Homo sapiens: one gene and its partner. The protein of the gene in region 1 interacts with the protein of each later gene in a biochemical or structural test. Each region holds a gene or a part of one and is shown in the gene's direction. Other genes may lie near its edges.

The links. Proteins that work in one complex are often made in the same cells at the same time.
Region 2: the proteins of TRAF3IP2 (region 1) and UBE2V1 form a complex in vitro, tested with the Homo sapiens proteins (one study listed by BioGRID).

Annotation. Positions count from the first base shown.
Region 1 is NC_000006.12:111,602,855-111,610,441, reverse strand, and holds the start of TRAF3IP2 (E3 ubiquitin ligase TRAF3IP2), read left to right. Parts: upstream 1-4,563; 5' UTR 4,564-4,666; intron 4,667-7,587. UniProt on the Homo sapiens protein: E3 ubiquitin ligase that catalyzes 'Lys-63'-linked polyubiquitination of target protein, enhancing protein-protein interaction and cell signaling. Transfers ubiquitin from E2 ubiquitin-conjugating enzyme UBE2V1-UBE2N to substrate protein.
Region 2 is NC_000020.11:50,103,149-50,110,173, reverse strand, and holds part of UBE2V1 (ubiquitin-conjugating enzyme E2 variant 1), read left to right. Parts: intron 1-1,062; exon of another isoform or gene 1,063-1,201; intron 1,202-5,682; exon of another isoform or gene 5,683-5,800; intron 5,801-7,025. UniProt on the Homo sapiens protein: Has no ubiquitin ligase activity on its own. The UBE2V1-UBE2N heterodimer catalyzes the synthesis of non-canonical poly-ubiquitin chains that are linked through Lys-63.

The DNA of each region.
Region 1 (7,587 bases):
TCCCCTTCTAGATTTCTAACAAGAGAGAGAAGACTGACCCACATCTTGACTATTCTATTTATGATCTGTACAGCAATCCTTACATATAAACACAGCACCAGGCTGTGGCACAGTCACAACCCCACCCTTTTATTGTCTACACCTTTTTTTCCCTTCTTAAGCGTTGTCAAGAGTTGTGCAAAGAAAGTGTGTTACCTGTGCTCCACCCAAGCATGTAGGAAGAACAGATGGCAACAGGGCAATGGAGGGTAGGGGTTGGGGGGCTGTGGCGGGGTGCAGGGAGGGGGCAGTAATAACATCCACCTGGAAGGGAGACTGCTCTGGGCTTGACTCCTCCATAGATGAGCTGTGTGACCTTGCAGAAGTTACTCAGTATCTCTGAGCCTCAGAGTCCTCAAAGTTAAAGTGGGAATGACAGTAAACACACCTCACAGGACTGTTTGGAGGATGAGATATGCTCAAAGGGAGTGTAGGGTAGGTCCTCAGTGAAGAGTTGCTCTCCCGTGACAGCAATTCAAAAGCTGTGTGTGTTCGCCTGGGTCACCTGTACTTCACCATAACTGCCTCAGGCAGGTTCAGAGGAGATTTCTCCTGTTCAGGACACCCTCTCTAAACAGTGGCCATCCTCAGGCTGCTTTTCAGCCCGGAGCCCCAGCAGAGGCTTCTAAGAGGGAACCATGAACTCATTCCCTGAAGTGCCTGCCTTTCTGCTCATGATAAATTTAGACAGGAGGCGAGCGGATCACCTGAGGTCAGGAGTTTGAGATCAGCCTGGTCAACATGGTGAAACCCCGTCTCCACTTAAAATACAAGAAAATTAGCTGGGTGTGGTGGCAGGCACCTGTAATCCCAGCTACTCGGGAGGCTGAGGTGAGAGAATTGCTTGAACCCAGGATGCAGAGGTTGCGGTCAGCCGACATCGTGCCATTGCACTCCAGCCTGGGAGACAAAGCAAGACTCCGTTTCAAACAAACAAACAAACAAACTGTAGACAAGAGGAAGGCCCAGCCAACAGCAATGAAAAGCAGCACTTCGGCACTTGTGTTCTTCCTACAGGGCTCTTAGGTCTCACACCCAGGAAAACAGTTGGTGGAGAACTGGAGAAAAGTTTCCCTTTGTTCTCCCTGGCGGGTTGTATTTCAGAGGTGGTACTCGGCAGAGCATCTTCAGGCCTTTCCCAATCCATTTAAGGACAACAAAGAGAAATGAAAAATATTTCCATTCCTGCTCCCCTCGCTCTCCCTGCTAGCTCCTCCCCTTGCCATTCTTCTTTGCTTTTCCGTTCCCATTTCCTAACTCCAGTAGCTCTCTCAAAGTATCCTGGTACCAACCGGACCACAGAAAATGCTATTTTTTCCTACCCTCCAAAAGATGACTCTAATAATAATTTTGAAGCAGAAACTTCAAAGCCAAGGTAATAAAACTTTTTTAAAAAACTTCATTCTTTTAAATGAAAAAGTCCTACATGTTATTGTGAAAAAAAGAATCAAATAGTCCATATGTATATATCATAAAGCCCTCTATCCTTATTTATTTTCCTCAATCGCATTCCCTTGAAGTGAGCACCACTAAACAGTTTGGCATACATCTTTCCAGATATTTCTAACTTGGTCACTGAACAGATACACAGTGATTGCCCACAATGTCCTAGGCAGGGCAGTGTGCTAGGTCCCCTGGGGCCCAGTGGTGAGCAAACACAAATCTATATGTTGGGCTGGGTGCAGTGAGGCACACGTGCAATCCCAGCATTTTGGGAGGCTGAGGTGGTGTAGGGTCCAGCCCCACAGGGTCAGTGGGTCTCTCTCCGTGTGTGGAGACGAGAGAGTGTAGAAATAAAGACACAAGACGAAGAGATAGAAGAAAAGACAGCTGGGCCCCGGGGACCACTACCACCAATGCGCGGAGACCGGTAGTGGCCCCGAATGTCTGGCTGCGCTGTTATTTATTGGATACAAAGCAAAAGGGGCAGGGTAAAGAGTGTGAGTCATCTCCAATGATAGGTAAGGTCACGTGGGTCACGTGTCCACTGGACAGGGGAACCTTCCCTGCCTGGCAGCCAAGGCAGAGAGAGAGAGGAGACAAAGAGAAAGACAGTTTATGCCATTATTTTTGTAGATCAGAGACTTTTAGTACTTTCACTAATTTACTACTGCTATCTAGAAGGCAGAGCCAGCTGTACAGGATGGAACATGAAGGCGGACTAGGAGCGTGACCACTGAAGCACAGCATCACAGGGAGACGGTTAGGCCTCCGGATAACTGTGGGCAAGGCTGACTGCTGTCAGGCCCTCCACAAGAGGTGGAGGGGCAGTCTTTTCTAAACTCCCCCGGGAACCCCTTTCCCCGTCTGCTAAGTAGCGGGTGTTGTTCCTTGACGCTTTTCGCTACCACTAGACCACGGTCCGCCTGGCAACAGGCGTCTTCCCAGATGCTGGCATCGCCGCTAGGCCAAGGAGCCCTTCTGGTGGCTCTGTCTGGGCATAACGGAAGGCTCGCACTCTTGTCTTTTGGTCACTTCTCACTGTGTCCCCTCAGCTCTTATCTCGTATGGCCTGGTTTTTCCTAGGTTATGATTATAGAGCAAGGTTTATTGTAATATTGGAATAAAGAGTAATTGCTACAAACTAATGATTAATGATATTCATATATAATCATATCTAAGATCTATATCTGGTATAACTATTCTTGTTTTATATTTTATTGTACTGGAACAGCTCGTGTCCTCGGTCTCTTGCCTCGGCACCTGGGTGGCTTGCTGCTCACAAGGTGGGAGGATCCCTTGAGACCAGGAGTTCAAGACCAGCCTCAGCAACACAGGGAGACCTGTCTCTAGAAAAAATTTAAAAATTAGCTAGGTGTGGCGGTGTGCACCTGTAGTCCCACCTACCCGGGAGACTGAGGCAGGAGGATTGTTTGAGCCCAGGAGGTCAAGGCTGCAGTGAGCTATGATTGCGCCACTGCACTCCAGCCTGGGCAATAGACTGAGACACTGTCTCTTAAAAAAAATCGATATACATATCTATGTGTGTGTATATGTCACATATATTGGCAAAAAATAAGATAATACTTTTAGTTAAATAATATCTCAGAGCCACTTTTTCATGTTAGTGGCTCAGATAATACATACATATTGATGATTTTTAATAGCTGCATCATTTTCTGCAAACCAAATGCAAACAACCTGTGTATACTGTGTTAAAAACAAGCTGCATTTTCTCTGCTTGTGGAATGTTGAGCAACCTGCTTCCTGTATCCTGCTTGAGCAGAACCTGGTACAATCTGAACAGGGATGCTCTGGGGCCTGTCCCCTTGATGAGAGTAGAGAGATAGCCGGCTGAGTGGACTGACACTTGGACCCCTTCAACAGGCAGACAAGTCCAGCACCAGGAGCATGGTGTGTCTGCCCAGGGCGCCCAGCTGGCCAGTGACATGGCTGAGTTCGTACCCAGGTCCTCCTGACTCCAAAGCTCCAGCTAACACTGCTCCCATTACTGACTGCTGCCCCGAAAGGCAGTTGTCTCTCTCTCTCTCTGTTCACATCGCTGGGTATCATCCTGCCTGCAGCGCTCCTTCATGCAATAAATTCTGCAGGCTACTGATTAAACAATGGGAAGGAAAGGGGAGAAAAAAAATCTTGAGGTCAGGAAAATGCAGCCAGAGGAGGTTAGTGTGCATGTGTGCATGTGTATGTATGTGTGTGTGTGTGTTCTTAAAATTAACCACTTTTTTTGTGCCTGACAATAGGGTGGTGTGTGTGCACAAGCCACAGGCATGTGTATGCTGTGTGTACACGTGTGTCCAGGAGCATGGTCAGTGAGCCCCCCCCCACCCCCCCAGTGGTTATGGGCAGCAAATACTGATTTTTTGGGTTTTTTTAAATTTTTTTTTTGAGACGGAGTCTTCGCTCTGTCGCCCAGTCTGGAGTGCAGTGGCGATCTCGGCTCACTGCAAGCTCCACCTCCCGGGTTCACGCCATTCTCCTGCCTCAGCCTCCCGAGTAGCTGGGACTACAGGCGTCCGCCACTACGCCCGGCTAATTTTTGTATTTTTTAGTAGAGACGGGGTTTCACCTTGTTAGCCAGGATGGTCTCGATCTCCTGACCTCGTGATCCTCCCGCCTCGGCCTCCTAAAGTGCTGGGATTACAGGCGTGAGTCACCGCGCTCGGCAATGCTGATGTTTTAAGCAGTTAGAGGAGGTGGAAGAAGCTCGACTCCCTCTTCTTCCCCATTATCTGCCCACAATCCCCTCCTTTGGAGCTGCTAATGATTACTAATTCTTAACATTCGAGTTCAATCTCCTCCCGGAGACACCCTCCCAGGCGAGGGCACTGCGACTACACTGAGGTTCTGCCCACTCCTGGGCAGCTTCTTAGCTGGGTGGCGAAAACAAAAATGCCGCCTAATTGGTCACTGGCCCTTTCTCATGAATGAAGGAGGTTTCTGTTTTAAGAAATAAAGTGACTCCTCAGCCGTTGATTCACTGCCCACAGGGAGATTTTGAGCAGAGGCTTCCTAGGCTCCGTAGAAATTTGCATACAGCTTCCACTTCCTGCTTCAGAGCCTGTTCTTCTACTTACCTGGGCCCGGAGAAGGTGGAGGGAGACGAGAAGCCGCCGAGAGCCGACTACCCTCCGGGCCCAGTCTGTCTGTCCGTGGTGGATCTAAGGTAAGTTATTCGGAGTTGCCACTTGCCTGGTCTTATTTCTTCACCTCTGACCTATTTCCCAAAGCACGCTGTTTCTCCTTTACTGAAACATTCTGCCTCTACTTTCCTCTGTGTTCGTCTCCCCTCCTTTAACTTGTTCGCACAGAGACCATCTTAGCTGAGAAAATGACAGTGAAGTTTGTGCTGCAAGGATGTGTTGCTAGTATAGTATTTCAGGCCAGCGAGCCCCGCCGGGTTAACCCTTTGAGGAGAGGAGGCTCGCACACGGGGACAGCTCGGAGCTGCCTGGGAACCATTCGTTTGGGTACTTAGTGTCCCCACAAGTTTCTCTCAAGAATTCAAGCCCCACTTCTCCAAAGAGAGAGCCAGGGATGGCAAAGATTAAGTAATTGGCTTTCAGCCCCAGAACACGTCAGTGGCAGTTTTCTCAATCCTTGTTTCGTGCAGGGGGGAAAAAAATCAACAGCACATTTTTGGGCCAGGAAGTTCTGCTGAGCTCTGTGCTGGCTGTGAGCCGCCTCCCGGCCCCTCTCCGCAGCCGCCCTCCAGCCCTCCCAGCCTGGCGCTGGACGGAGCCTTTGGGAACAAGGGGGAGAAATGCCAGAACTTGATCTTAGAAGCTAATCAAGCTTCTTGTGACTTTCAAGTTCAAGATGGTATCTTAGAATAGGGGGATTTTTTTTTTTTTAAAGGAACAGGAGAACAAGAGGCCAAATTTTTTAAAAGGACAAGAAACTTGGTTTCAAGTTCTTCACTTCTTGTGGTTCCATGACTTAGGCAATTCACTCTGACTCCACTAAGCCTGGATTTCTTCATCAGTAAATTGATGGGGGGTGGTGATCTAACATGAGTGTGTCAAATTCCCTTATAAAACAAAGCCAGGATAGTCCCAGAGGGGTAGTGGTAATGGGTGGTCTTCAAGACTTGTTTTGTTTACCGATTATTCACATATTTTAATTTTACCTCCCACTACCAGTTGGTTACCCCCTTGAGGAAAGGACTTTGTTTCCTGATATTTTTCTACCTCCCAGAATCCAGCATGCTACCAAATGCCTAGTAGGTGCTCACCCCCCTTCCATGTCAACTGCTTTGATTTCTGTTTCACTCGTCTGCTCTCAAGGCAAGAGGTAAAGCAGCAGTCAGGGCGAAAGGCTGGGAGACACGTGTCTCTGCGGGAGGGCTGCCTGGAATTGAGGCCTTATTACTGGCTCTAGCCAAATAGGAGAAAACAGGGAGTTTCTCGAATTAGTTCATGTCCCATTTGGGTTACCCAGGAAGGATAGTCTGTGCTATTGTCCACAGAGTCAAGGCAGGCCAGAGAACTGGCAGACAAGCCCAGCTCCAGAAGCCAGAGTTACTGCTGTAGCTGGACCTGGAAACCACTCCTCAGCTGGACCAGTCACTGTGTGTGGGGCCTTTAATGGGAGGGGAAGGGAAACTATGAAACACATCCTAATACCATGTAAGGGTGATGACTGTGATTAGAGACATTATTAGATGGCGGATACACAGAATCCTTAACTTTTTCCAGACCGTGACTTAAAAAAAAATTGTCATTGTTTCTTTTTGGCAATTACTTGCCATCAATACAGTTCAAACAGGCCCTAGCTGACTGGGATGGGCTGGTGCAGGACTTTTGGTTTCTGTGGGATGTCCTGGTGTAGTCCGTGTCATGTTTTTAGGCATTTCTCTCTATTCCCCTGGGATGAAAGGACAGGAATTTCAAGATATTTCACCTGCAATGAGTTCCTGATTTTATTTTCAAACAACGATGCACCATTATCTGAAAGCAGGCTAACTGTTGTGCACTTGCCAGCCTCGCTCTAATCCTTAAAGGCCACACACCACAGTCATTCTTAATCTGCTGCTGCAGCTACCAGTCACTCCATGATGGAGCATCAAAAGATGGATAATGTAGTTACTCTGCTCTGTTCCTTGCATGGGGTGGGTTAAACAGAAGTGAGGTCTGAGTAATGTACCAACATGTCGGATAGAAAGGTTCTTAACTCAGGGTTACTCATTTTTGGAAGGTGTAGAGACAGGAAATGTTAAAGCCTGCTTCTCCTGGGATTAAGGAGTTAGTGACTTTCAAATGCTCTGAAAAGAAAAAGAAGAGGAGAAGACAGTCATATCTGCAGGCATTCTTCAACAGGCATTCAGAAAGATTATGGTGGGGTAGTTTGTCTAAATGAAATCTTTGTTTTACACGTTGTAGAATGGAAATCTCAGGAATATCCTGAATTCAAATCATTTTTCTTCTGCAGGCAATTTTAAATTAGCTTCTAAAAACATATATGAATTGCAGGCAACTGCTGCAGAAAAAAAAGAGTGAACACAGATGAGGCATATTCAACTTTAAATTCCTTTCAGATCCAATGAAATGACCCCTAATGTTTGATCACATTTCCTTATCAAAACAATCCTGCAGTCTGAAGGATTTTTCCATGAGAAAGTGTCTGAGGACTGGAATCAAGAAGCTGCCCCCCGGGCCTCTCCTGTTTCTTCCCAATGCGTTGTCACCAAGATATTTTTAGTTCATGAAACTCAGGCTGTCCTTTCTCCCACTTATGGTCTTTGCCTCCCGTGCCCAGCAGGCCTCCTAGAAGCACACATGTGCTTGGCTGTGACTACTCAGCTCACTCTGTAGCTGTGTGTGCACGCCTTGTGTGTGTGTGTGTGTGTGTGTGTGTGCACACCTTGTGTGTGCACAGACCTTCCCGGATACCAGGAGTTGTAGACTGGCTGAAGAAGGGTGGGCTTCCATCCATGGGGTGATCCTTAGGTCTGTGCTGGTTTGGCTTGGTTCCCTGATAAGGCAGCTGAACTCAAGCCCTTTAGGAGGGCCAGGACTGACCGGAGCTCCCAGCCTGTGCCCCTCTCCTCGCACCCCACAGGCCGCACCCCACAGACTGAGGCTGCCT
Region 2 (7,025 bases), on another chromosome or scaffold:
TCACTCAGCAGCCCACGAGCTTCCCTGACATTTAATCAGAAAATGAGTGCCAGAGGGGTAAGCCCTGGTGGGGCATGATTTTAAATTTGCATACATCGGAGTGGCCTCATATGCACATTCAGCTTATAAAAACTTAACCATGTGGGCAGCAGAGATTAGTCTTCCCTTCCATTCAAGAGTCTTCCCCAGAGAGAGCTGGAAATGGATGAAAACTCACAGTCCCTTAGTTCTTCTCAGTTCCTGTATGTCTCACTGTGTGAGCATCTTATGCCAATTGTAATTAAGTGCCTTTTGTACAACATGGGCCCTACATTCAAAGAACAGCTTCATATTGTGCTCAGCCAAAGAAATAGCAGCCTGCTCCAGTGATGGAGGGGAAACTGGCTTTGTTGGGCTAGTGCAAGCTTTTTTTTTTTTTTTTTTTTTGAGACGGAGTTTCGCCCTGTCACCTGGCTGGAGTGCAGTGGCGTGATCTTGGCTCACTGTAACCTCTGCTTCCCAGGTTCAAGCGATTCTCCTGCCTCAGCCTCCTGAGTAGCTGGGATCACAGGCACGCGCCACCACGCCTGGCTAATTTTTGTATTTTTAGTAGAGACAGGGTTTCACCATGTTGGTCAGTCTGGTCTCAAACTCCTGACCTCATGATCCGCCCGTCTCAGCCTCCCAAAGTCCTGGGATTACAGGCGTAAGTCACCGTGCCGGGCTGCAAGCTATTATTTTCTTAAGGGATTACCAAGGTTAATTTTGATGATCATGATTTTCCCCCTTCATGTTAACTGAAAACCACTCTATTTCCCCCACCACATTCTCTTTTCTCTTCATATCTCTATCCCTCCCACCTCCCCACAAATTGTAGCTCTGCAGTAATTTGGTAAAAGTAGAATACAAAATATGAAGTCAGGAATCCTCTGCTTAATTTTGAAGGGGCACAGTGAAGTTCAGAGCAGCACATTTGGCAAAGTAAATGTTTGAATACTATTACTGTTGTATTGTGGATAGTGCTTTAGAGTGTCCCATAGACTTCGACTTACCTGTGATGTTGTCTCATCTAACTCTCCACAGCCTGGTCACCAGCCAGGGGCAGTATCCACCCACATTACTGAGGGAGGAGCCAAAAGCCAAGGGAGACTGGTGATGCTCGGACTAGAGCCCAGGCATTTTTAACTCCTGTTCCCTCACCAGCCTGCAGGAAATGGAAAAGGCATGGATTTAGGGATATGTTCTTCCTAAGTCTTGGAGTGTTTAATCTTGGAGAGAGAAAGGGCTTTAGTAAGAAGTGTCTACTGCTACCCGTTTCAGGAACCCTTTTTATAGCATCTCTGGCCACTGTTTGTCCTCTTCTGGGTTATGTGCTGTCCAAGGAGAGTGAGGTCCTTTTTTCAGGAAGCTCTTGCTTATATTTTATACTGAATGACTCACACCTCTTGGGCTTGGAGCCCCATCATGGCAGGTACAAAGTAGTACCTCATCCTTATTTACATGCAAGCCATCAGACTTCTTTTTAAGTTGCACTCTTGGGTTTACTAAGTGCTAGACACTGTATTAACTACATTATCTCACTTGTCACAACAGCCCATTGAGGCAGGTATCGATTGTGAAGGTGAGGAAACAGGCCAGGAGAGGAGTGACTAGCCTGAGGTGCAGAGCCTGGGTGCTCTGGGATGGTGTTGCTTCAGGACACGTGCTCTTGGCCGGATGATCGTTCTTCCAGCCCCCATTTCTTATTCTCTGAGGTAGGCCTCGCAAGCATCTTCAGCCATTGGCATGTCTGTTATTTCTGCCTTGGCTGATTAGCTTATTCATGGGTAGATGGCAGTGACCTCTCAAGTAGTAGTCTTTCCTCATCTTCACATCCACCCTGTCACAAGTCCAGTAGGTGTAACCCCAAACTAAATGCCAAATCCTCCTTTCTGTCTCCACTCTTGTCATCCTAATCTAACCAGAACCGTCTTTCTCTTGCCTGGAAGATGGAAAAAGCCTCTTGCTTTCAGTCTTGCCCTTTCCATTTTCTATACAGGAGACAGAATGATCTTTCACAGACGTAAAATAGAAACTGCCACTCCCCTTCAGCAAGCCCTTCCCACTGCTCTTATTACAGAATAACCCATCCCTTTTCCATGGCCCACAAGGCCCTGCCGCCTTGACTTCATGTGGTGTCACACACCTCTGATCTTGCTCTGTCCCCAGATCTTCATGGGCCTGACTGCTGTTCTTCAGGTCGCAGCTACCCAGAAAGGCCGTCCCTGAGCACTCCATTCAATAGTTTTTTAGTCATTGTCACAGCTTCTTGTTTTGTTCTGTTTCTCTAAAGCACTTAACCTTACCTGAAGTGTTGTTTCGTTGCATATTTTCTATGCCTTTTCACTAGGGCAAGATTCTATCTCAACTTCTGTTGTGTCCCTAGCACCAGCACAGTTCTGGACAAAATAGTAGGTACTCAGTAAATATTTGTGAATGTTGCAGTGAGTTAATTCAGAATCTCTTTGATGTAGCCAAATGGATACATTTGACAATTTGTGGAGAAACAATGTATCCGATAGGGCAGAAGCAAAAGTGGCTATTCAGCCTTTCAAAAAACTGAAACTCTTATCCTTATTTGGTGGTATTTATAGAGGTACTTGATCGTAGAATTAACCATCCTCCCCTTCTCCAGTTGTCCTGACTCATTTCCCACATCTTGTTTCCCCCTTTGTCAAAGAAAATCTGATGCTTGGTCTTGGTCACTGACCCTAGCAGCAGAACACAGGGTCTTGCATTCTGTCACTAGCTGTTGTCACGTGGCTGGACTGTAAAGAATGACAGCTTGCTACTAATTCTTTCCCTAGAATTCCCCTAGAGCAATGGATCTCAAACTAGTATACCTCAGAGTCCTGGAGGGCTTGTCAGATTCTTAGGCCCAACCTTGGAGTTTCAGATTCAGGAATTCTGGGCTGAAGACCTGAGAATGTACATTTCTAGCGAGTTTGCGATGAGGTCTGGGGACTAACTTGGAGAACCATTGCTCTAGAGAAGGAGAAGAACAGATCTCCTGGGCAGGCTAACTAGACAGCCAGACTACACTTGGGCGGTTGCTCAGAAATAAAAGTTACTTGCTTATGGCTCTATGTCCAGTTTTCAGGGACGTTGAATCCCAGTGCATCACCTTCCATACCTCCTCATTTTCTGAAGTGGGAGCAGCATCAGATTCCTAGCTCAGTTCACTGTCTTCCCTGAATGGGCAACCAAACCATTTTTAACTAGCAGCTTTCTTTTCAGGAGAAACCTCTGAGGTTCTACCTTTTTTTTGTTTTTTTTTTTTTGTTGTTGTTGTTGTTGTTGTTGTTGTTGTTTTTGGTTTTGAAACAGAGTTTCACTCTTGTTGCCCAGGCTGGAGTGCAATGGTGCTATCTTGGCTCACCGCAACCTCTGCCTCCCAGGTTCAGGTTCAAGTGATTCTCCTGCCTCAGCCCCCTGAGTAGCTCGATTACAGGCATGCGCCACCACGCCCAGCTAATTTTGTATTTTTAGTGGAGACGGGGTTTCTCCATCTTGGTCAGGCTGTTCTCGAACTCCCGACCTCAGGTGATCCACCCATCTCTGCCTCCCAAAGTGTTGGGATTACAGGTGTGAGCCACCACGCCCAGCCAGCTCTACCATTTTAATTCAAGACCTAGGCCAGGGTTTTCCAAGATTGACATGCTGTGGTAGCTGCTGCTTGGTGGCCATGATTTTCCCAAAAGATGTTTTAAACGACTTCAGAATCCTTTTTGTACCACAAATATATTAATATGTTGCTGTGTTTCAGATTACTGCATTAAATGTTTTACTGTGGCATGGTGTAAAGCTCTATCAAATATTCATGCTTTTTCAACCTGGTTGCCATATTTTCTTTGTAATATCCTGCAACTGCTGTCTTTTCAGTTTATATTTAGCTAAGAGAATAACCGGCTGACTTTTGATACTGACACAGGTCCAGGAAAAAGCCTTCTGGAAAGAATAATTCTGAAATAATAGGAACAAATATTTTCTTCAAAAAGTCTTGGATTACTGTGATATTTTAGCACCTTGATGAAGTTTTTTTTTTTAGCATTTTCATAATTCACTTTTTAATAGTCATAGTCTATTTGATTATACTTATCATTAGCTATAGATTTTCCTAGTGTACTTCCTAGCTATTATAGAGCCTGTAGTTCTCTTGGTTTTGCAAGATTATAAGAGTCCTTTTGTTTGTTTGTTTTTTGTTTTTTTGTTTTTTTGTTTTTTGTTTTTTTTGACGAGTCTCTGTTGCCCAGGCTGGGCTGCAGTGGCATGATCGCAGCTCACTGAAACCTCCACCTCCCGGGTTCAAGTGATTGTCATGCCTCAGCCTCCCAATTAGCTGGGATTGCAGGCATGTGCCACCACAACTGGCTAATTTTTGTATTTTTAATAGAGATGGGGTTTCACCATGTTGGCCAGGCTGGTCTCAAACTCCCACCTCGGCCTCTCAAAGTACTGAGATTACAGGTGTGAGCCACTGCGCCTGGCCTGTAAGAGTCCATTTTTATGTCTTCCATATTGTCACTTGATGCTGTTTCTCCAGCTGCCTTTTTGGTGTCAGATTCACACAGAAATATTGGGAATCCTAAAATTTTATGTTGATTCAATTGATTAAAGTGCTAGAGGACCAAAACATATGTTAGAGTATTCTTGGGTTTTCTCATCTGTTGTGCTTCTGTTCTTTGGCATATGTACGTTTAATTTTTTAATATATTCACTAAAATGTTTTGTTTAATGTACCGTGATTTTGAATTTAAACTCTATTTAGGATAGGATGAGCTTTTCGCTTGTCACTGATACATCCTGAAGTCTGCAGGATCTCTGAATTCCAACCATATTTGGACTTATGTCCCTGGAGTAGACCCTGAATTCTATAACTAGGGTGTGATTAGGCCATTTGGAATTAAATGCTCTTTTGTTTTGTAGAAAATATTGATGTAACTTTGTATGCAGTTTTTAAATGGTTTGAAATATTAGTAACTTGCTTTCATACATACTTTATGAAACAAAGTTCATTTTATAGTGAAGAATTCTTTGACTTATGTGATTTGGGTGAGAAACCAGTTTTCCCTTATTTTAAAAAAAATGGTAAGTTTTCCTAAAATTCTCATTTATTAAAAATAAAACTAGGCTGGGTGTGGTGGCTCATGCCTGTAATCCCAGCACTTTGGGAGGCTGAGGCAGGTGGATCACTTGAGGTCAGGAGTCTGAGACCAGCCTGGCCAACATGGTGAAACCCCGTCTCTACTAAACATATGAGAATTAACTGGGTGTCGTGGCGCGTGCCTGTAATCCCAGCCACTCGGGAGGCTGAGGCGGGAGAATCGCTTGAACCCAGAAGGTGAAGGTTGAAGTGAGCCGAGATTGCGCCATTGCACTCCAGCCTGGGTGACAGAGTGAGACTCCATCTCTAAAAATAAATTAGAAATGGTTACCAAATTTTACTTATCTCAAAATAAAAAACCTTAGGTATGTTAATTTTTTTTTTTTTTTTTTTTTTGTGCCAGAGTCTCACTGTCGCCCTGGCTGGAGTGCAGTGGCGCAATCTCGGCTCACTGCAGGCTCCGCCCCCTGGGGTTCACGCCATTCTCTTGCCTCAGCCTCCCGAGTAGCTGGGACTACAGGCAGCCGCCACCTTGCCCGGCTAATTTTTTGTATTTTTAGTAGAGACGGGGTTTCACCGTGTTAGCCAGGATGGTCTCGATCTCCTGACCTCGTGATCCGCCCGCCTCGGCCTCCCAAAGTGCTGGGATTATAGGCGTGAGCCACCGCGCCCAGCCAGGTATGTTAATTATATGGCAACAGTGTCCAATATTTTGGACCCAGTAGATTAGAGTTTACAATAGGAAATACTGCCTTTTTTTTTTTTTTTTTTGAGACGGAGTCTGGCCCTATTGCCAGGCTGGAGTGCCGTGGCGCGATCTCGGCTCACTGTAACCTCCGCCTCCCAGGTTCAAGCAATTCTCCTGCCTCAGCCTCTCGAGTAGCTGGGATTACAGGCGCGCACCACCACGCCCAGCTAATTTTTGTATTTTTAGTAGAGACAGGGTTTCACCACGTTGGCCAGGATGATCTCGATCTCCTGACCTCGTGATCCGCCTGTCTCAGCCTTCCAAAGTGCTGGGATTACAGGCATGAGCCACCACGCCTGGCCTGATACTGCCATTTCTTCAACCAGCAAACATTTATTGATATTGAGTATCATTATATGCCAGACAGCATACCAGATTCTGGGGAGGCGGGATTGAATGAGTCACAGCTCTGACTTGAGAAACTTAGAGAGTGAGTCAGACAATAAAAAAGGAAGAAAATCAAATGTAAAGAAAACATACCACACATGCCTGTGTGGAAGTAAAGGTGTTTGGGACCGGGACCGGGGTCTCTGAGAGGGCCTCTCCTGACTGCCTGGCTTCTAATTAAGCTTTATAGCTTTTAAAATTATTATAGTCAGGCCGGGTGCAATGGCTGATGCCTGTAATCCCAGCACCTTGGGAGGCCAAGGCGGGCAGATCACTTGAGGCCAGGAGTTTGAGACCAGCCTAGCCAACATGGTAAAACCCCGTCTCTACTGAAAATGCAAAAATTAGCTGGGCGTGGTGGCAGGCGCCTGTAATCCCAGCTACTTGGGAGGCTGAGGTGCAAGAAACACTTCAACACAGGAGACCGAGGTTGCAGCGAGCCAAAATCACACCACTGCACTCCAGCCTGGGTAACAGAGTGGGACTCTGCCTCTTAATATATAACTGTTCTTAGGCTTTAAAATTCATACTAAGCCCCTTTAATAATCCTTATAATGTTAGACTCCCAGATAATGGTGCTGTGAATGTTTCTCTCTTGTATTTTCAAAAATAAACCAGATTAGAATTTTGTGACATTGAGCGTTGTTCATTCTGAAATACTGTTCCTAGCTAATACCTAGTCATTCATTAATTCTTTCAATAAGTATTTGGGTGCTTACTCTAGAGGGCAAAACACCCTGACACATTGGAGATTCAGCAGTGAACAAA